5 separate regions of the Homo sapiens genome follow, and regions 1, 2, 3 and 4 are each linked to region 5. The links come from fine-mapping of genetic effects on gene expression. A gene starts in region 5. Each other region holds a variant in brackets. All regions are shown on one strand. Distances are between the middles of the regions.

What was found. PIP is the estimated chance that this variant, and not a neighbour inherited with it, causes the effect.
Region 1: its variant is the best candidate, but not a certain one, in a credible set for the expression of CDC42EP3 in subcutaneous fat (TwinsUK, PIP 0.68).
Region 2: its variant is the best candidate, but not a certain one, in a credible set for the expression of CDC42EP3 in whole blood (INTERVAL, PIP 0.70).
Region 3: its variant is the best candidate, but not a certain one, in a credible set for the expression of CDC42EP3 in whole blood (INTERVAL, PIP 0.56).
Region 4: its variant is the best candidate, but not a certain one, in a credible set for the expression of CDC42EP3 in whole blood (TOPMed, PIP 0.61).

The regions. Positions count from the first base shown.
Region 1 is chr2:37,742,358-37,746,480 of GRCh38, reverse strand. LOC107985869 (a long non-coding RNA gene) reads right to left here and starts at 3,052. Exons shown (of 3, transcript XR_001739409.2): 1 at 2,865-3,052; 2 at 1,984-2,029. The variant C/T (reference allele first, on the strand shown) is at 1,827.
Region 2 is chr2:37,620,615-37,624,737 of GRCh38, reverse strand. No RefSeq gene overlaps it. Among named protein-coding and RNA genes, the nearest start is that of CDC42EP3, 49 kb to the left of the region's middle. The variant C/G (reference allele first, on the strand shown) is at 2,322.
Region 3 is chr2:37,594,423-37,598,545 of GRCh38, reverse strand. All of the region lies in intron 1 of LINC03063 (long intergenic non-protein coding RNA 3063), which reads right to left. Among named protein-coding and RNA genes, the nearest start is that of LINC03063, 34 kb to the right of the region's middle. The variant T/C (reference allele first, on the strand shown) is at 1,819.
Region 4 is chr2:37,760,755-37,764,877 of GRCh38, reverse strand. All of the region lies in intron 2 of LOC107985869 (a long non-coding RNA gene), which reads right to left. Among named protein-coding and RNA genes, the nearest start is that of CDC42EP3, 91 kb to the right of the region's middle. The variant G/T (reference allele first, on the strand shown) is at 2,496.
Region 5 is chr2:37,669,319-37,673,441 of GRCh38, reverse strand. It overlaps CDC42EP3 (CDC42 effector protein 3), which reads left to right and starts at 1,800. Exons shown (of 2, transcript NM_006449.5): 1 at 1,800-2,016. RefSeq lists silencers at 822-991, 1,212-1,281, 1,292-1,351, 1,522-2,011.

The DNA.
Region 1 (4,123 bases), 73 kb before region 5:
ATTTCCACCCCATTCCAAAGGTGAGTTCCCACTGCATCCTCAAATTTCTGAGACTTTATAAACTTTGTATGTCTACAAAGCAAGTACCAAATCACTGCAAATTGTACTCCATTAATTAAGAATAATTATTTTTGGTTGAAAGATGAGCCCTATCCCAGACCCACCACTTAACAGCCACATGATCTCGGGTAGCCTACTTTGCTTTGGATGGTCAGTTTCCTCAGGCATCAAATAGAAGTGGGAGTCCAGGTCCCAGTGACCTTAAAGAACTGTCATGGGACCAAGTAAAAAAACAAAGCATGTGAAGACATTTTGCAACCACAAAAGGCTAATTATAAGAATGAAGTTAGTCACCATTGTTTGTTAATACTTTTCTATGGGAATTAAAACACCTTTGGTTTGAAGTTAGAAAAAAAAAGAAAGCCATAAACTGAATAGATTGACTGTCTTTACATAAGTTCATTTTTAAAAACAGACAATTTTTTATAGTATGCTATGTGAAAATGGAAATTTCATACTGGGTCTCAAGATTTCTACTTGAGCTTGAAGGCAGTTTCCTTAAATAAGAACTGACTCCTTCATCAATTGGCTCCAACTAAATTATGCATCTCAAAAGAATCAGCCCCGAGTTCCAGAAACTAGAAAAAGAAAAAAAAAGTCTATAGTAGCTTCCAGTTTTTCTTGGGTCATTAGTAGGTGCGCTAGAGAATTTCACTATTTTTTTCTATGAGCATAGCTTCGGAATTACACAAAGTTTAACCCAATTACAGCTGCCACAACCCAGAAGGTAGGGAGGAGAGGGAAGAGGAAAATGAAAGCCAATGGTGAGGCCAGTCTCATATTTTCCTTTTTTTCCAATAAATAATAAAGTATTTGAGTGTTTCAATGAGAACCTGCAGAGCTTGGGGGAAATCTTGAAGGCTGGCAAGGTGGGGTATCTGAAAGGTGGGAGAGGTGGCCTGTGAACTTTATGGGGGGGCCTTAGGGTGCTCCAAAACACTGATGGGAAGATGGTTTTCTATCTCATGATCATGCAACACAGATGTGAGCTGAGAAGTTAATTTCATAGTCTTTTTTCTCTTTTTTTAAATTTAATTGTGTTTTTCTTTCCTCATCCCTGTGATCACTGGGAGATAAGCCTTTTTTTCTTTTTCTTTCTTAATTGACACATAATAATTGTACATATTTATAGGGCATATGTAATATTTCAGTACATGCATATAATGTGTAATGACCAAATCAGGGTAATTGTCATATCTATCAGCTCAACCACTTATCATTTCTTTGTATTGGGAACACTCCAAATCCTCTCTTCCAGCTATTTTGAAATACACAGTAAATTATTAATTATAGTCACCCTGCTATACTATGGGATACTAGAAGTTATTCCTCCTATCTAACTATATTTTTGTATTTGTTAATCAACCTCTCCCTGTCCCTCTTCCCCACTACCCTTCCCAGCCTCCTGTATTTTACTTTCTACTTCTATGAGATCAACTTCTTTAGCTCCCACATATGAATGAAACATATGATATTTGTCTTTCTGCACCTGGCTTATTTCACTTAGAAAAAATACTCATCATGGCCAGGCGTGGTGGCTCACGCCTGTAATCCCAGGACTTTGGGAGGCCAAGGCGGGTAGATCACGAGGTCAGGAGTTCGAGACCAGCCTGACCAACATGGTGAAACCTCGTCTCTACTAAAAATACAAAAGATTAGCCAGGCATGGTGGTGTGCACCTGTAATCCCAGCTACTCAGGAGGCTGAGGCAGGAGAATCACTTGAACCCAGGAGACAGAGGTTGCAGTGAGCTGAGATCATGCCAC[C/T]GCACTCCAGCCTAGGTGACAGAGGGAGACGCCATCTCAAAAAAAATTAAAAATAAAAATAAATAAATAAATAAATAAAATAAAATAAAAAGAAAAAATACTCACCATTAGTAATCAAGAAAATGCAAATTGTCAACTCTTGTTTGACAACAATTACCTGAAAGTATTTTGAGAGTAACGTCAGCGAACTCAAGACCTTCTACCTGTTGATAAAGCAAACAGTAAATACAGTAAATATAAACTGCCTAATGTTTATACTAAATAACTTGTTTCAAAAATATGCAAGCCATCATGCAAACATTAAACTAATAATAATAATAAATGTTGGTCATTCATTCCTTCTTAAAACATATCCATTTGCTCTACTGTCATAAAACTATCATTTATATTTAATTCATATTTCTTTAACATAAAGGATACATTTTGAGCACTCAGAAATGCTTAGACAGCATCTTTTACTTCAAAATCGCAAAGCATTTTTGGCCACAGTATTTTGTTTTCATAATTATAAATGAATATAGTGACACGCTTTAGGATCACTTAAGTTTGCTCTTTTGGGGACTCATGATGTTAACCACTTTAAGCTTTCTTAATGAAATATCATTGACTGAATGAGTAACCAGGTTAGTGACCCTGTCACGAATATCTTTTTTGTCCACTGAGCTGTGACATCATGGGGGCCCAAGGAGAAGTTCTGATTTGGGGATTCCTTTCCTGCTTCTGGGAGCTGACAGCAGAAAAGATTCCTAGAGGTAAGGTGGGGAGTGGAAGCAGAAGGGACAGAGATCAAGAAAAGAAATCTCATCTCTACTTCCCACCAGCAGTGTCCAGAGAGATGAATAAGAAGATTAACAGCTTCGCAGCCCGCTGAAGACGCAGCCAAGGCCAGACTCCCAGAGCCTGGACTTCTACCCTACCCCATACAGCCAGGGAGTTTGGGGGAGCCATAGCAAGAGGATTTATCTTCTGAGAGTTCAGGGGGAAGTTCTTCAGCTGCTCACCTTATGATCTGAAGACCCTCCCCTCTGGCCCCCTCACCTCACAGTCCCTCTAACTTTCTGTCCCCTGCAGTCTCCCAGCCTGATGGTCCTCCTCAGACTTCTCCTCTCGTACCTGGAGCTTGACACTGCTCTGCCCTGCTAAACCTGCATGAAGAACCACAAAGAACTGTGCTCACTAGAGTTCCTGATAACGTGACTGTCACCACAAAAGTAAGAAGGGTCAGAAAGATTCGATTGGCTCAACCATAGCTTCTTCTGAGTCCCTCATTGTACTTTAAATGGCACAAGCCACATTGGGGATAAAAGGGCACTGAAGAGTAAGAGAATGTCCACTATTCATGTTCATTACCAATGATGATAATGAGAAGCACAAATTGGAACTCTTTCTAGGATTTTTTTTAACTGCCTTCAGATACCCAGCCATCATCACCACCATCACTGCCACTACCATCATCACTGTCTTCATTATCATCATCATTATGATCATCACAGTTCACATGTACTGAGTACTTATTATACAGTGGGCAATATTTTAAGCTGTTATATATTTAAATCTTCATAGTAACCCTATGAGGGAGGTACTGTCAACCCCATTTTACAGATGAGGATAGGAAAACACAGTGAGTTCAGGTCATTTGCCCAGCTAGCCAATAGGAGAGCCAGGATCTTAAATCCCAGCTAGTCTGATTCTAGACCTGGAATCAGGGTTCATAGATTCCACTGCTATATTATATTGTCACAAAATACAAATAGGTTTTGAACGTTTGATATTATTTTTGCATTTAAAAAAACTTTTCCTTATTCACTATAATATCCAAAAGAGCTGATACTTTGTTTTTCATTATTATTATTGTTGTCATTATTTTAGAAATTTTAGATATAATATAATTCACTTTTGGAGCAGATTTTCTATATTTGGGTGGAAAGGACCAAAAAGGGCACATTAATTTCACAAATATAAAACACGTGCTTTTATTTTTCTTGGAGAAAATTGAAGCTATTATAAACCCGGATGTAGATGCTGCAGACCTTTTATTAAGTTCTGTTTTGTAATATAAATGGAATGTATTTTTAAGATGACTATATCCTTGCAGAATTAGAGCCACTTTTTTTGCCCCTTAATATGGATGGGAGCTGTGCAGTTGGGATAGCACATGAAGTGCGATTTAAGACTGGATAAGCCAGCATTTGGAGGGCAGAGCTCACCATCTGGGTAGTGGCAGGAGTTTCCCGGGAGGAGATGGACGTTTGCACTCTGGGTCATTCTGTGATAGGAAGAAAGCTGGAGACCAGGCC
Region 2 (4,123 bases), 49 kb after region 5:
TTTTTCTGGCTAGATCAAGAGCCAACTTGCTCTTCACCCTGTGAAAAGGGGAATTAGTCATGGGTGCTGAAAAAAGGAGAACATATTCAAAGTAAATATCAGTGCATGAGATTGCTTTTCACTCAGAATCTGAACACCCACAGTAGCCTGAATTTGTAAATATTTGCTGTCACTTATGTTAAAAAATATTGACTTCCTAAGCTATATTGCTACCAAAATATTTCTTTCTCGCATGCCTACCCAGACTTTTGGCCTATAGCTGGCAACATACCCTCTGCCTTAGGTTAACCTCATAGCAAGGGTAAAGCTTTAAGTGTACTTATGTGGTGAGAGAGAGAGCGAGAAACTTGAAAAAATAAAAATGGCAACATACCTAATGATAAAAGCACTATTTCCAAGTGTCTGAAGCCTATTATATGAGTTAAAAGTGAAACATCAGCCTAACTAATGCAAAAGCTTTATAGGGTCTGAGCAAGGATGACTAATCTCCAAAGCTGACAGTTTCACAGCTTACACAGGCTTCGTTCTGCTCAAGTGTGGGGAACACCCACCATCCCCACCATAGTCCAGGACATTATGGCATTGTACACTCATTCTCAGAACTTCACAGGGAAGATTATGGCAAAACTGGAATTCTCACTGAGGACACATCACTCTGAGCCCAATTGCCCACTGTCCCGCCTTCCATCCCCCGACCCCTGTCTTCTGGCTCCTTGAGCCTGCACGATCAATGTTTATTTTCACGTTGAATCAACCTGGGTTCAGAACTTTGAGCTCCACAAAGAAATCCACTAACAAAACCATAAGAAACAGTATCTTCACAGCAGATGCTACGGAAGAGTGGGGAAGAGTGAGGTAGTTTACACTGCCTATCTTATGACCACTATTTATCCCATCAAGTGCTTCTGGTCTCCCTGAAGGCACCTCCTAGGCCACTTGACCACTGTGAGTTATTCTCAGAGCCTAGCCTCTATGTATTACCCACTTCCAAAGCTGCTTCCACATTTTCAGGTATTTCTTACTAGCAATAGCCCATCTCCTCAGTATCAATTATCTGTCTTAGTTCATGTTCTGTTGCTATAACAAAATACCACAGACTGAGTAATTTATAAAGAAAAGACATTGATTTCTCACCATTACATGGTGAGAGGGCAAGAGCATGCCAGCTCAGATCTCTCTTCCTCTTCCTATTAAGCTACCAGTCCCATCATGGGGACTCCAACCCTGATGACCTTATCTAATCCTAATTACTTCCAAAAGGCCCCATCTCCAATCAACATACAAATTTGGAGATTAAGTTTCCAACACATGAAATCTGGGGACATATCAAAACCATAGCATCTCCCCAGCTCCCCCTTACTGTGACCTAACCAAAACTTTTTATTTTCTGAAAAGCTAATTCTTCTTCCTTGTTCCAGTTGAATAAAAGAGCCAAGACTTTCTAAGTAACAGGAGAAGCCCTTCTTGTTGGATTGGAGGCAGAGGCTCCTGAGATGACTAAAAGGATTCAGTCTTGCTCCCTGCCTCTCTACCTGGTCCTTCTATTTCTACCTCCCAGCCCAGCTTGAATCTTTGCAATAGCAGTTGGATATGGCCATGTAATTTGGAGGGCTCAGTGTAAAGGGGAAATGTGGGGTGGGTCCCCTTGTCAAAAATTATGAACAATTTCAAGACAGCAGCCACAGCACATTAAACCAAACATGGGGCCCTCTTGAGCAAGGGGACCCTGTGGGACTAGATAGGTCACACGCTCATGAAGCTAGCCCCAATAGGAAGAGTCACAGGAATTGCAGCCATTTACATGAAATGTGTGCCATTTGTGACTAATTACTGTGCAGCAGTCACACTTGTACATTTCATAATTATGTAAGTGAAAATATGTAATCATTACACAAACACTGCTTTGTAATAATACAATGCAAGCTATTGTTTTTACTAACTGTGGGGTTCATCTTGTTGAATGGCATATTGACTACAAAACCAAACCCTGTTCATATGCAGACAGCCTTCAGGGTACCTGTGGCAGTATACCTGTTCACAAATTTTAATTTGAAGAGGCTACGAATGATGTGACTCGAAAAGGAATTGCCTTAATAAACCACACCAACCATGACCACCAGTAATGAATTCAGGAACTGAAAATAAATCTGCCATTTAATTCAGAGCAAATTAGCTAACTGAAATGATACTATGGGTCATATTAAAAGAGGTGGTTCTTCAAATTTTGGATTTTATAGACCAATAAAATCTCTAAGAAATTTAGAAAATGAACACGAAGTTGACACATTTTAATTTTGCCACGTAAAGACATCAAAAGCCAT[C/G]AATTCATTTAAAAACGAACAATTATGTCAGAAAAATAACATTTTGAAATATAGTTCTGTAAGTTAAATGAATTTAGTATTATGAACAACTCACACGGTCGGTGTTTAGGTGAAAGCTTTTCCTCCATCAGCATACTGGGTAGACTGAGATTTATAAACTATAGGTCTAGGGGGCAGTGGCTACAGGAATGTTTATATAGAGGGCTGAAGTATTATTTTGCTTTAACTTGGATGATTCCTTAAGACCCATGGCCAATTCTCTGCTTTGGAGATGCAACTCATTTGGATATTGTCATCCAGATATCAGCTTCCCCTTTTCTTTGCTCCTCAGCTGCAATCCTGAGAGATTTGGTTAAACCTGGCCCAAACCCCAAATCTATCTCTTTGAACCCTGAGAAGGCCATCTCGTATTCTCTGAATAGCTGTGCCTTGGTTCCCTCTTTGTTTCCACGTTCCTATATTCACAAGGAATGGATAATTTGAGTCCATTCATTGTTTCCTTTTTTAAAAAAATCCATTCAGTTCAAGCACTTCAGGATTTAGTCAATGTCATTGAGATTTGCTGGGTGTGTGGTCTTCAGCCATCATCTTCAATCCACCTCCACTCTCCCTTTCCTCATCCTTATCTCTTAGAACAATAGCTAAATGCTCTTCCTCTTATGGTACAGCTTTGCCCCGAAGCAGATCCCTTGAGTATTTAGCATCTACGTACCTTCCAAATTAACAGGATTTTCTCCCTGAAGGAATTCTGGTGGGTTTAATGATTTCCCCATTCATCACTTATCATTAAGCAATTCCACATACAGAAACTTTCCCTGATTCCTTTAGCTTTCAAAGGTCTCCTGCTCCTCTGAATTTATGCAATGCTAAGGGTTTGCACCTACATCACAGAATCCTTTTTCCTGTTTATTTTGCTAGTGTTTCATGTCTATTTGTCATGATCCTCGATTAGGTTGTAATGTGTATGAGGATCAGGACAGTAATTCTTACACCTCTAGTCATGCATTCATTGAGCAAGCCTTTGGATGTCCACTATGTACCAGGCACACTTAATACAGATGGCAGCATGTCTCCTTGAGAAGCTTATAGCTTAGGAAGGAGCAGAAGCATATATATAAACAGATGAATTATAACACACTGTAGGAAATGCCATAAGAGTTGTGAACAAAATGCATAGGCACCTAGAAGAGGAAAACTACCAATAGAGCTGAAAAGAGCCTCTGAAAGATGCATAGGAGATCATAGGAGAGGGGTGTTACGCACGAGCACAGAGATATGAGAGAGCAAATCGTGTAAAGGATAAATTAAAAAGTTCAGTGTGGCCAGGGCTTGGAGCTTCTTGAGCAGATGGAAAATAATTAAAGAGGTTGTCAGGCAGGCTATAAAAAAGACTTCTGAATTTCTCCTAGCTCCTAGTCTGTTGCTGTGCCTAATAAATAATAGCTTGTACCTAAGAAATAGTATATCATGGTAGAGCACTGTACCATCTTCAGAGAACTTTTACACTTACGATTTTTGGTCTTAACTCTATAAATAAATGATATCTCCTTCAAATTTACGGATAATGAAATTGAGGTTCAGACAATTTTAGTGATGTGCTTCAAGTCACCCAGCTAAGTAACATCAGGTGAGACTCTAATCTAATCCAATTACCTCTTCTAATTCTAAATCCAAAACTCTTCACCACCCAGATCATGAGTGAGCAGGTCCATGACTGTCATCATTACACAGCCTTATAGAGTGAGATGCTGTATAACTTAATGAAAAGAGAATGAGCTTTAGAGACACAATTTCCAAGTTTA
Region 3 (4,123 bases), 75 kb after region 5:
GACTAACAGCAGACCTCTCAGCAGAAACCCTACAAGCCAAAATAGAGTGGAGGCCAATATTCAACCTTCTTAAAGAAAAGACTTTTCAACCCAGAATTTCATATCCAGCCAAACTAAGCTTCATAAGTGAAGGAGAAATAAAATCCTTTACAGACAAGCAAATGCTGAGAGATTTTGTCACCACCAGGCTTGCCTTACAAGAGCTCCTGAAGGAAGCACTAAACATGGAAAGGAACAACCGGTACCAGCCACTGCAAAAACATGCCAAATTGTAAAGACCATCAATGCTATAAAGAAACTGCATCAATTAATGGGCAAAATAACCAGCAAACATCATAATGACAGGATCAAATTCACACATAACAATATTAACCTTAAATGTAAATGGGATAAATGCCCCAGTTAAAGACACAGACTGGCAAATTGGATAAAGAGTCAAGACACATCAGTATGCTGTATTCAGGAGACCCATCTCATGTGCAGAGATGCATATAGGCTCAAAATAAAGGGATGGAGGAAGATCTACCAAGCAAATGGAAAGCAAAGAAAAAAAGCAGGGGTTGCAATCCTAGTCTCTGATAAAACAGACTTTAAACCAACAAAGATCAAAAGAGACAAAGAAGGCCATTACATAATGGTAAACGGATCAATTCCACAAGAAGAACTAACTATCCTAAATATATATGCACCCAATACAGGAGCACCCAGATTCATAAAGCAAGTCCTTAAAGACCTACAAAGAGACTTAGACTCCCACACAATAATAATGGGAGACTTCAACACCCCACTGTCAATATTAGACAGATCAATGAGGCCGAAGGTTAAAAAGGATATCCAGGAACTGAACTCAGCTCTACACCAAGCAGACTTAATAGATATCTACAGAACTCTCCACCCCAAATCAACAGAATATACATTCTTCTCAGCACCACATCACACTTATTCTAAAATTGACCACATAATTGGAAGTAAAAGACTCCTCAGCAAATGTAAAAGAACAGAAATCACAACAAACTGTCTCTCAGACCACACTGCAATCAAATTAGAACTCAGAATTAAGAAACTCACTCAAAACTGCACAACTACATGGAAACTGAACAACCTGCTCCTGAATGACTACTGGGTAAATAACGAAATGAAGGCAGAAATAAAGATGTTCTCTGAAACCAATGAGAACAAAAATACAACATACCAGAATCTGGGACATATTTAAAGCAATGTGTAGAGGGAAATTTATACACTAAATGCCCACAAGAGAAAGCAGGAAAGATCTAAAATCCACACCCTAACATCACAATTAAAAGAACTAGAGAAGCAAAAGCAAACAAATTCAAAAGCTACCAGAAGGCAAGAAATAACTAAGATCAGAGCAGAACTGAAACAGATAGAGACACAAAAAACCCTTCAAAAATTCAATGAATCCAGGAGCTGGTTTTTTGAAAAGGTCAACAAAATTAATAGACTTCTAGGAAGAATAATAAAGAATAAAAGACAGAAGAATCAAATAGATGTAATAAAAAATGATAAAAGGGATATCACCACCGATCCCACAGAAATACAAACTACCATCAGAGAATACTATAATCACCTCTATGCAAATAAACTAGAAAATTTAGAAGAAATGGATAAATTCCTGGACACATACACCCTCCCAAGACTAAACCAGGAAGAAGTTGAATCTCTGAATAGACCAATAATAGGCTCTGAAATTGAGGCAATAATTATAGCCTACCAATCAAAAAAAGTCCACGACCAGATGGATTCAGAGCTGAATTCTACCAGAGGTACAAAGAAGAGTTGGTACCATTCCTTCTGAAA[T/C]TATTCCAATCAACAGAAAAAGAGGGAATCCTCCCTAACTCATTTTATGAGGCCAGCATCATCCTGATACCAAAGCCTGGCAGAGACACAACAAAAAAAGAGAATTTTAGACCAATATCCCTGATGAACATCAATGCAAAAATCCTCCATAAAATACTGGCAAACCAAATTCAGCAGCAGATCAAAAAGCTTATCCACCACGATGAAGTCGGCTTCATCCCTGGGATGCAAGGCTGGTTCAACATACGCAAATCAATAAACGTAATCCATCACATAAACAGAACCAATGACAAAAACCATATGATTATCTCAATAGATGCAGAAAAGGCCTTCAACAAAATTCAACAGATCTTCATGCTAAAAACTCTCAGTAAACTAGGTATTGATGGAACATTTCTCAAAATAATAAGAGCTATTTATGACAAACCCCCAGCCAATATTATACTGAATGGGCAAAAACTGGAAGCATTCCCTCTGAAAACTGGCACAAGACAAGGATGCCCTCTCTCACCACTCCTACTCAACATAGTGTTGGAAGTTCTGGCCACGGCAATCAGGCAAGAGAAAGAAATAAAGGGTATTCAATTAGGAAAAGAGGAAGTCAAATTGCCCCTGTTTGCAGATGACATGATTGTATATTTTAAAAACCCCATCATCTCAGCCCAAAATCTCCTTAAGCTGATAAGCAACTTCAGCAAAGTCTCAGGATACAAAATCAATGTGCAAAAATCACAAGCATTCCTATACACCAATAACAGACAAGCAGAGAGCCAAATCATGAGTGAACTCTCATTCACAATTGCTACAAAGAGAATAAAATACCTAGGAATCCAACTTATAAGGGATGTGAAGGACCTCTTCAAGAACTACAAACCACCGCTCAATGAAATAAAAGAGGACACAAACAAATGAAAGAACATTCCATGCTCATGGATAGGAAGAATCAATATAGTGAAAATGGCCATACTGCCCAAGGTAATTTATAGATTCAATGTCATCCCCATCAAGCTACCAATGACTTTCTTCACAGAATTGGAAAAAACTACTTTAAAGTTCATGTAAAACCAAAAAAGAGCCTGCATTGCCAAGACAATCCCAAGCCAATAGAACAAAGCTGGAGACATCATGCTACCTGACTTCAAACTATACTACAAGGTTACAGTAACCAAAACAGCATGGTACTGCTACCAAAACAGATATGTAGACCAATGGAACAGAACAGAGCCCTCAGAAATAACACCACACATCTACAGATGATCTTTGACAAAAACAAGCAATGGGGAAAGGGTTCCCTATTTAACAAATGGTGCTGGGAAAACTGGCTAGCCATATGTAGAAAGCTGAAACTGGATCCCTTCCTTACACCTTATACTAGAATTAATTCAAGATGGATTAAAGACTTAAATGTTAGACCTAAAACCACCCTAGAAGAAAACCTAGGAGATACATTTAGGACATAGGCATGGGCAAGGACTTCATGACTAAAACACCAAAAGCAATGGCAACAAAAGCCAAAATTGACAAATGGGATCTAATTAGACTAAAAAGCTTCTGCATAGCAAAAGAAACTACTATCAGAGTGAACAGGCAACCTACAGAATGGGAGAAAATTTTTACAATCTACCCATCTGACAAAGGGCTAATATCCATAATCTACAGTGAACTCAAACAAATTTACAAGAAAAAAACAACCCTAACAAAAAGTGGGCAAAGGATATGAACAAACGCTTCTCAAAAGAAGATATCTATGCAGCCAACAGACACATGAAAAAATGCTCATCATCAGTGGTCATCAGAGAAATGCAAATCAAAACCACAATGAGATACCATCTCACGCCAGTTAGAATGGCGATCATTAAAAAATCAGCAAACAACAGATGCTGGAGAGGATATGGAGAAATAGGAATGCTTTTACACTGTTGGTGGGAGTATAAATTAGTTCAACCATTCTGGAAGATAGTGTGGCGATTCCTCAATATCTAGAACTAGAAATATCATTTGGCCTAGCAATCCCATGACTGGGTATATACCCAGAGGATTGTAAATCATACTACTATAAAGACACATGCACATGTATGTTTATTGTGGCACTATTTCACAATAGCAAAGACTTGGAACCAATCCAAATATCCAGCAATGATAGACTGGATTAAGAAAATATGGCACATATACACCATGGAATACTATGCAACCATAAAAAAGGATGAGTTCATGTCTTTTGCAGGGACATAGATGAAGCTGGAAACCATCATTCTCAGCAAACTATCACAAAGACAGAAAACCAAACACCACATGTTCTCACTCT
Region 4 (4,123 bases), 91 kb before region 5:
ACTGTTTTTACAAAGTTGATACATGCCCATTACAATAAATTCAAGCCACACAGAAAACTACAAAGAGCAACAGAAAAATTATACAAACTCTTGCTGCCAATGAAAGAGCAGCTATTAACATTGGATAAAAATTGTCCTGCACATCTGTTTATACATCCATACAGTTTAGAAAATAAAAAGGTAGAATTTTGATGAAATAGAATCCATTTTTATAATAAAAGCAGCCATTAGACATATGAAATGTGATTTTAAATAAAAGGTATTAAATGTAAGTTTCCTTTAACAGAAGAAAAAGAAACTAAAATATAATTGGATACGCTGGATTTCAGGTAAATTTTTCTTCACAGAAGACTTTATTTTCTAACATCTCTCTAAAGCCAAGAAAAAGATTGTGAAAAACATTTAGACATTCATCATACTTAGCTTGTGTTGACTTATAAATCACCCCCAAAACACTGTGGCTGAAAACAAACACCATTAATCATTGCTGCAGACCTGCAGGTCTGTAGGGGTGGTCCTGCTGATATGGCTTGGCTGATCTTGGGTGAATGAGTTAGGACATGGGTCAACTGGAGCTTGACTGGCCTAGAATCACCTCACTCATGTGGTAGTTGATTATCTCTTGGCAGGGACAGTGGGGGTGACTTGGCCCTGCGATCTCTCATACTCCAGCAGGATGGCCCAGGCTTGTTCACAAAATGGTAGCAGGGCTGTGAGAAAGGGAGTGAAAGTATGCAAGGCCTCTTCGGGCTGTAAGCTCAGGGCTGCCATGAAATAATTTTCACCACATGCTATGGGTCAAAGCAAGCCATGAGACCAGCCTAGATTCAGGGCTGGTTATCCATATTATTTTTATGTACTGGTATTGGTCACTCAAGTAAGTTTTCATTAGAGCATTATTCTCTCACTGCAGATTTAAGCATTTGTTCTGGGATTGTTTTTCCTATTTCTTGAACATATTTTCTGTTTCTTTTGTTCATTTCTTCTTTGCAAACACCAATTATATATTTGTTGAATATTCCTTACCTATCATTCATGTCTTTTTCCTTATAATCTTTTTTTTATGATAATATGTATATAGAATGTCTCTCCAGATATTTGCAGGCCTGAATCTTTCATGATGTTATACAGGTTTCAGATAAAATATCCTGCAGTGAGAGAGACTTTCATGGTCACCCAGTACCTTTCATACTCTATTATGTTGTTCTGTTTTACTTTTTTTAATAGCACTATCAAAATTTATTCTTTACTTTTTACTATCCCCCATCCACCCTAGGTTGTAAGCTCCATGAAGGCAGAGATGTTGTCTTGGACACTGCTAAGTTCCCAGCATCTAGAAGCACTCCAGCCATGGAGGGGGTATTCACTAATTAGTTAAATGAATGAATGAACGAATGAATGAATGAATGATTAAAAGTACTGTCTGTTTTAAGTTAGGTTTATTCTAATTTCGGTTGCTTGTAGTATGGCTTTTTTTTTTTTTTTTTTGACGGAGTCTTGCTCTGTCGCCAGGCTGGAGTGCAGTGGCACGATCTGGGCTCACTGTAACCTCCGCCACCTGGATTCAAGCAATTCACCTGCCTCAGCCTCTCGAGTAGCTGGGACTACAGGCACACGCCACCATGCCCGGCTCATTTTTTGTATTTTTAGTAGAGACGGCGTTTCACCATGTTGGTCAGGATGGTCTCGAACTCCAGATCTTGTGATCCACCCGCCTTGGCCTCCCAAAGTGCTGGGATTACAGGCATGAGCCACTGCGCCTGGCTGTAGTATGGCTTTTTTTTTCTGTAATATTTTTTATTTACACTTATCTCCTATAATTTCTTTGAGATTATGGGGAACTCTACCCAAACTCTTTGTTTTCTTAGATGATTTCTTTTGTAGTTCTTTATCTTTGTCCTACATTCCTTTCTTCTTTATTTTCTCTCTCATTTCAAAGCATGTCTGTGGGATGGTTCTTTCAGATTGTCATTCATCTTGTATACTTGCTGAAAAATCATCCATGGAGGAAGGGGAGTAGTGAGGGATGTTAGTAAACTTGAACACAGTATATTGCCTCCTATAGCCTCTCACCAAATCTACTCTTTTCCTTATTCTGGAACTGTATATCACACCGCAATTTTTGTCATTGGAAAGGTTGGTAATTTGGAAAATGCAATTTTCCTCCACTTTCTCTGCCTTGGTCATTCCCACAGCAAGGAGAATGAATATTGGATAAAAATCGGGTACCACTCTGGTTCCTCTGCTTTTCTGCCTGCCATGTTCTGTGGTATCAAGTTGAGCCTAAAGGAAGAGTCCTCTTCTGCCATGGCCCCAGTACCCCTGGATCTTACCTCCCTTGAAGAATCACTGGATGGCATTTCAGGGTAATCTCACTTTCTTTTGGGGAAATGTCCCTCTTGCCCAAGGTCTGAGGATATGTTGTTAGTTTTTAGTGTTCTTCCTCATTTTGGTCCAGATTTCACAGCATTTGGCAGGTTTGCTACATAGTTTGT[G/T]GTTTAAGATTGCAGTCGTATCCTTATTTCATTGGCAACTAAAATATTTTTCTGTTTTTAGTTTGAGATTTTTCAAGAAGGGGAGGGTAAGAATTAATGCCTATACACCGTGATCCTTAACCAGAAGTCATTTTGTGCTCTTTCAACTGCATTCTGCAAATTTGTATTCCACAGTGCAGGAAAGATCGTAAGTGCCATTCACCCACCAGGTTTCAGACTTAGGTCTGAATTCTTATAAAGCTTATTTAAATTTTTGTTTCATAGCTTTGCATCTATCACTTTTCTTCTCCATTCTCTTTGACCTACCTCCAGTCTCCAGAATTTTGTGTTTGTTTTGTTTCATTTTGCCTTTCAGTGTACCTGCAATATTCTGTTTCCCTCTTTGTGGCAAGAACTTTCTTAGTTCTTCATATCTTTAGCTCCTCTAAGTTAAGCTGCAAAATTGTCTGGCCTCAAACAAGTAGTGGGTTGATAAGAACCACTACCACTGCAGTCACCACACTTATCCTCACCTCTGTTAATCAAATATTTACTGTATGCCAGTAATGCCACTAAAGCTTGTCCATCTCCTGTCTCTATCTCCTTACCACATTTTATTTTTCTGGAGAATAGTATTTACTACTACCAAATATAATATTATGCATTTATTTTTAGTCTAGCTCTTCTAGTAGGATGAAGCTTCACAAGGACAGGGATTTTATCCGTCTTATTCACTACTGTATCCATGGTGCCCAGTACAGAGTTGTGTCATCCTTCCAATAACCCAAAAAAGCCAATATAATTGCCTGCAATTGAAATGCAAAGATGTGAAAAATACCTTTTACTAAAACTGGCTCCAGAATTATGTTGAGGGTTGCCACTGTATTTGTTCAAGAAAATACTTTGAAAGATATTTTGGGGGTGGTTGAGATTTTGTGATGTCAAAAGAGATGGGGGCAGGAGAAAAGAGAAAAAGTTGTTGTTTTGTTATTGGAAGGAAAAGGTGAGAGAAATAAAAGAAGAGGAGAGGGAGCCAGAAAGTTAGAGGCTAGCCCTGAGAAAGAGCCAAAGAATTCCTAGCACTGCTGTATGGGAGCCGTCAGCCCTGTACCTCCTGTACAGGTTGGCTGTTTTCCTCTCAGGTCTCTCTTCAGCCCCAAATCTTCAGCTCATCTGCTATGCACACAAGTCCTAGGAGGGGGTTTCTGTGGTTCTTATAAAAGGGTCTGGGTTTCCCATTGCAGTCAAAGCCTCAAGAGACAAAACTGTATATATGGGATCGGGAACTGGGAAATCTTTGAGAGGCAGGGGTTTGGGCCTTTTTTTTTTTTTTTTTTTTTTGAGACGGAGTCTCACCCTGTCACCAGGCTAGAGTGCAGTGGTGCGATCTTAGCTCACTGCAACCTTCACCTGCCTCCCGGGTTCAAACAATTGTCCTTCCTCAGCCTCTCGAGCAGCTGGGATTACAGGTGCGCACCACCACTCCCAGCTGATTTTTGTATTTTTAGTAGAGACAGGGCTTCACCACATTCACCAGGCTGGTCTCGAACCCCTGACCTCAAGTGATCTGCCTGCTTGGGCTTCTCAAAGTGCTAGGATTACAGGCGCTAGTCACCTCGCCCAGCCAGACTTTTATTGGCTACAGGATT
Region 5 (4,123 bases):
ATGTCTTTATGTGTTCAAAAGGAATTTTGCATGTGGTATTTTATATATATACACATATTATTTGGACTTATAAAATACCCTATGTAATGAAAACTATGCATAAATATTTATAAAAATACCTTTTTCTAAGTAGGCCAGGAACATTTAATATTTTTCAATAAATTAATATATAAAATATATACATTAGTGCCAAATGGAACATATATTTTGAAATATGAAACCCAAGTAAAATGCTCAGGAATCTGGAGTAGAATCCAGGTATCTGCCAAAGGAAACTTTGGACGAGTTGTCTTTTGAAGAAGGGAAACAATGCTGGGTCTCTTATCTTCACGGACTGTTTTTGCTTGTCAAACTTCTAACATCACTTCAGCCGAGTTTCGTATTTGACTTCCAACCTCATGGCCATTTGACCTGCCAACTACTATTTTTCTTTGAGGCTTTTAACACCCCACCCAAGTATTTTGCTTTCCAGATTGTGTGCGTTTCCTTTTCACTTCACCTTAAAGTCAGCCTGGGTTTACAACATCGGCTTAAGGCGCACCCTCTAAGGTTTCAGACAGACCCAGGGCACCGCGGTGATGACCTGAAGCTGATATCTCTCGGCAAAGCCAAGGTATCCGGGAGGTTCTCCGCGTTGTGCCAGGATTTCCATCCAACCCGAGAGTCTCAGGGCAGAGGCCAGGCCCCCAGCGTCCGACTCCCAGGGGTCCCAGCCCCCTCCCCTGGCTGACCATGCGGGCTGGGACCTCCCAGCCGGAAAACACCGCCCTTTCCTGTCGCCTACTCCTTCCCCAGGCCGACGACTCGCGGAGGAGGAAGAGACGGAGGCCGATTAAGAAAATTAGCATTCATTAACCCGGTTCACGCTCCGGCCCCGGCGGAGGGGAGGGGCGCGCCGGGCGGCGGCGCTGGCGGTGGCCGGGTGACCGGCGGGCGCAGGTGCCACCGCGGCCTGAATTTTACTCTCTCGGGCCGGCAGCTGCGCCACTTGCGCCTCGTCGCGCGTCTGGGGCAGCCGCCACCGGCTTGCCCCAGCTTTAGGCAAATCCTTTTGAAAGACCCTGAGGGAGAAGAAACGCCTCCCTCTGGGTAGGAGAACCTGTAGCGTCTGCTGTTCGTCGCGTGTCCAGTTGCTCAGCCGGGAGCTCCGGCATCTTCAGGGCGCTTATTCCACTCTCCGGGTTTTGGCTGCAGCTCTGAGGGGAGCGAGCTAGAAACTGACAGAACGCGACCCTCCCCCTCCGCGCCCACCGGAGCCCGGGCTGAGAGGGACCTGGGGAGCTGCGGCCTGGCCGGGGCGGCGCACTCAGGTGGCCTCGCTTCCCTGCGGGTCACCGCCCGCCACTCGCACAGCTAGGTCGGCCTGTTGGGATCGGGAGAGGTGGGCGCACGAGTTTTAGTGCGGGAGTCCGGGGTGCGGGCGGAGTCCTATTGTCCCCGTGCACCCGGGCGGCAGCACCTCCGGGTCCCTCTTTAAACCGAGCGTCCGGCGACCTTTCTTTGTGCTTAGGGAGTCGAAAGCGGCATCTTCTCCGAGAGAAGTCGCCTACTGGGGGGTGGCGCTGGGGAGGTAACAATGGGCGCCCATTGTCCTCCGAGGGTCCAACGGTGACCCCCCCCCGCGCGCGCGCCCGGCCACCGGTTGGCCCCGGGCCAGGGCACAGGTACCGCGGCTGGGAGGGTCGGCCCCGCTGCCCGCGCCCTCCGCCCCGCCCCAGTGAGTCCCCGCGCCGCCGGCCCCGCCCCGCGCCGCCCCGCCCTCCGCAGGTTCAGTCCTCGCGTCCGGCCGCCCCGCGCTCAGTCGCGCGCACCTTCTCTCGCGGCCGGGGGACCGCAGCGCGGGGCTAGCCCGGAGACCCGGCCACCGGCCTGGGGCGCCTTCACGCCGTCTCGGAGCGGATAATGCGGTGAGCAGGCACCACGCCGGCAGACTCGGCTGGATCTGCGCACAGCGGCAGGGATTGCGTGCGCCCGCGGGAGGCCCGGGGCAGCGGCTGGGATCCTCAGCGGCGGCCGGTGAGTCGGGGCAGCCCAGGGCTCCTTCCTCTCTACCTGTCTGTGAGTCTGTCCCGCCCGCGGCCGTGGCCGCTTCCGGCGTGCGCTGGTGTTAGGCTGGGAAACCAGCAGGGAGTCGGGATACCCAGGGCATCGCTTTCCCATCTAGTGTCCAACGGAACGAAGGGGACATAAAGCAAGCCAGGAGGGGGTCCGGCGGCACGACCAGGACTCAGAGCTCCACCATTTGTGCCCACTACTTTTCAGGGTGGGGCTGCGCGGCCACATTGCACCCTCCGAGCTATTGGCAGAGCCATTCTGGGCGCGTATAGCATTTTTCCATCTGAGAACAAGCCGCGCTTGGCTACCGCGCCCCTCGCATCATGGATTGGTACCAGGGCCGCACATGGGTGCATCGCACAGCTCTGCCGTGGCATCGCCTGCCCGGTGCCCTCCTCTTTCTTAATGGAGGACATTGTTAGTGGGGCGCCAACCTGCAGATCTGGATATTGACTTTTTTGTTTTTTGACGGTGAACAGCTGAGACGTTTACAAGGTTTTTTGTTTTTTGTTTTCTTCCCTTTCTCCTTGAAACTAAGTGGCTTGACACAGACAAGTATCAGACATGTGAGGATGAATGGATCTGGCCATTTTTTCGTTATGAATTATTATACTCTATCCCTCTCTCGACTTTGGGAGGCATGTGTTTCATCTTATAAATAGAAAGTAGCATATTTTTGGGCAGGATCTCCTTTATACTGTGCAGTCTAGGAGAGGTCAGTTTAAAAATAAATATGCACTTGAATGTTACATTACTGAGAGCCAGGCTGTGGCTGGGACAAGCTGCGTGGACAGCAGCATCAAAGCCGGGAGCGCAGCTGTGTTGAAAGGAGTAAAAGCCCCAGAGTGCAGCCTAGGCTGACAGTCAAGTAATTACATTTTGTTTAAAAAAAAAAAAAAAAAAAGTGAGCGAATTAAAATGAGGAATGTCAGGAGGGTATTGCAACATGAATCTTTCCAGCCCTGGCGTATTTGGAGGAGTGGGCTGCTGCTGTGTGCTGAGGTTGTAGGGGGGCTCTAGGGAGGGAACTGATGAATGTGTTAGGGAGACAAAGATTCCATCCCCATCTCCCAGCTCTTAATTCTCACAATATCCAAGAGTTTCTTGGGAGTACTGCCTTTTAAAAGGAACAAAAATTAGGAGAGCAGCAGATGTCTGTATTTTAATAGCAAAGCCAGTTTTAGGGACTTCCTGTTAACATCACAGGGAGAAAAAAGACTCACCAGGAACCAGCGATGATGCCCCAAAGGTATCCCTAAGACAATTTAAAAGGCTCCTGTAATGTTCTAATTTACACAAGCTCTTTCATCTTAAAACCAGGAAATGTACCTTCTCTTCTTTTCTGGACAGTTCCAGAAGTCTACTCTTTCATACCCCCTGCAATTTGTGTGAGCTCTTATTGGTAGTTAATAAGCTACACAGGTATGTGTGTGATGCATACCCTTTTCAGAATAGATTTAGACACTCAGAAATAAGTTGGAGTAGTTGTGAAATATTTAGCATTTTCATATGTGAAATAAATGATAAAGGCCCTTTCTATAGTCAAGGAATGGTTGAAATTCTTCATAAAGTCTCCCAAAGAATGCGGGTTTCCCAATGGGCCTCACCCATTTGAATAAAACAGCACCAGCCTCTGGGCTCACAGATAAGAACTTTAGAGGAGAAATTTGGAAGCATTTCTGGATCCATGGCAGTTTCTGTTTTCCAATGGCATCATCTGCTAGAGATTTACATGATGAATTCTATGATTAGAACATGGTGCTGAGGCTGTGGCAGCAGCTACAGGCTTGAAATGAGATGAGCTCCTCTTTCCCTCAATCTGAGCAGTGAAATTGTTTCACGTATCTCTATGGAACAAGTAAAAGCAGCTAGAGTAATAAGTGTTGCACACTTTTTGCTTTTTATTGCACATTTAAGTGCGGTGCAAGATGAATAAATACAAAGCCGTAACAGTGATTGCAGAAGGGCTCACATGAGTTCATTTGCCCTGTCTGCGCTCCAGCCTTTCCTTTAATGTGGTGTTTTGTTTTATGTCCAACATGCTCACAAAAGCTGTGCTTTTTTCATG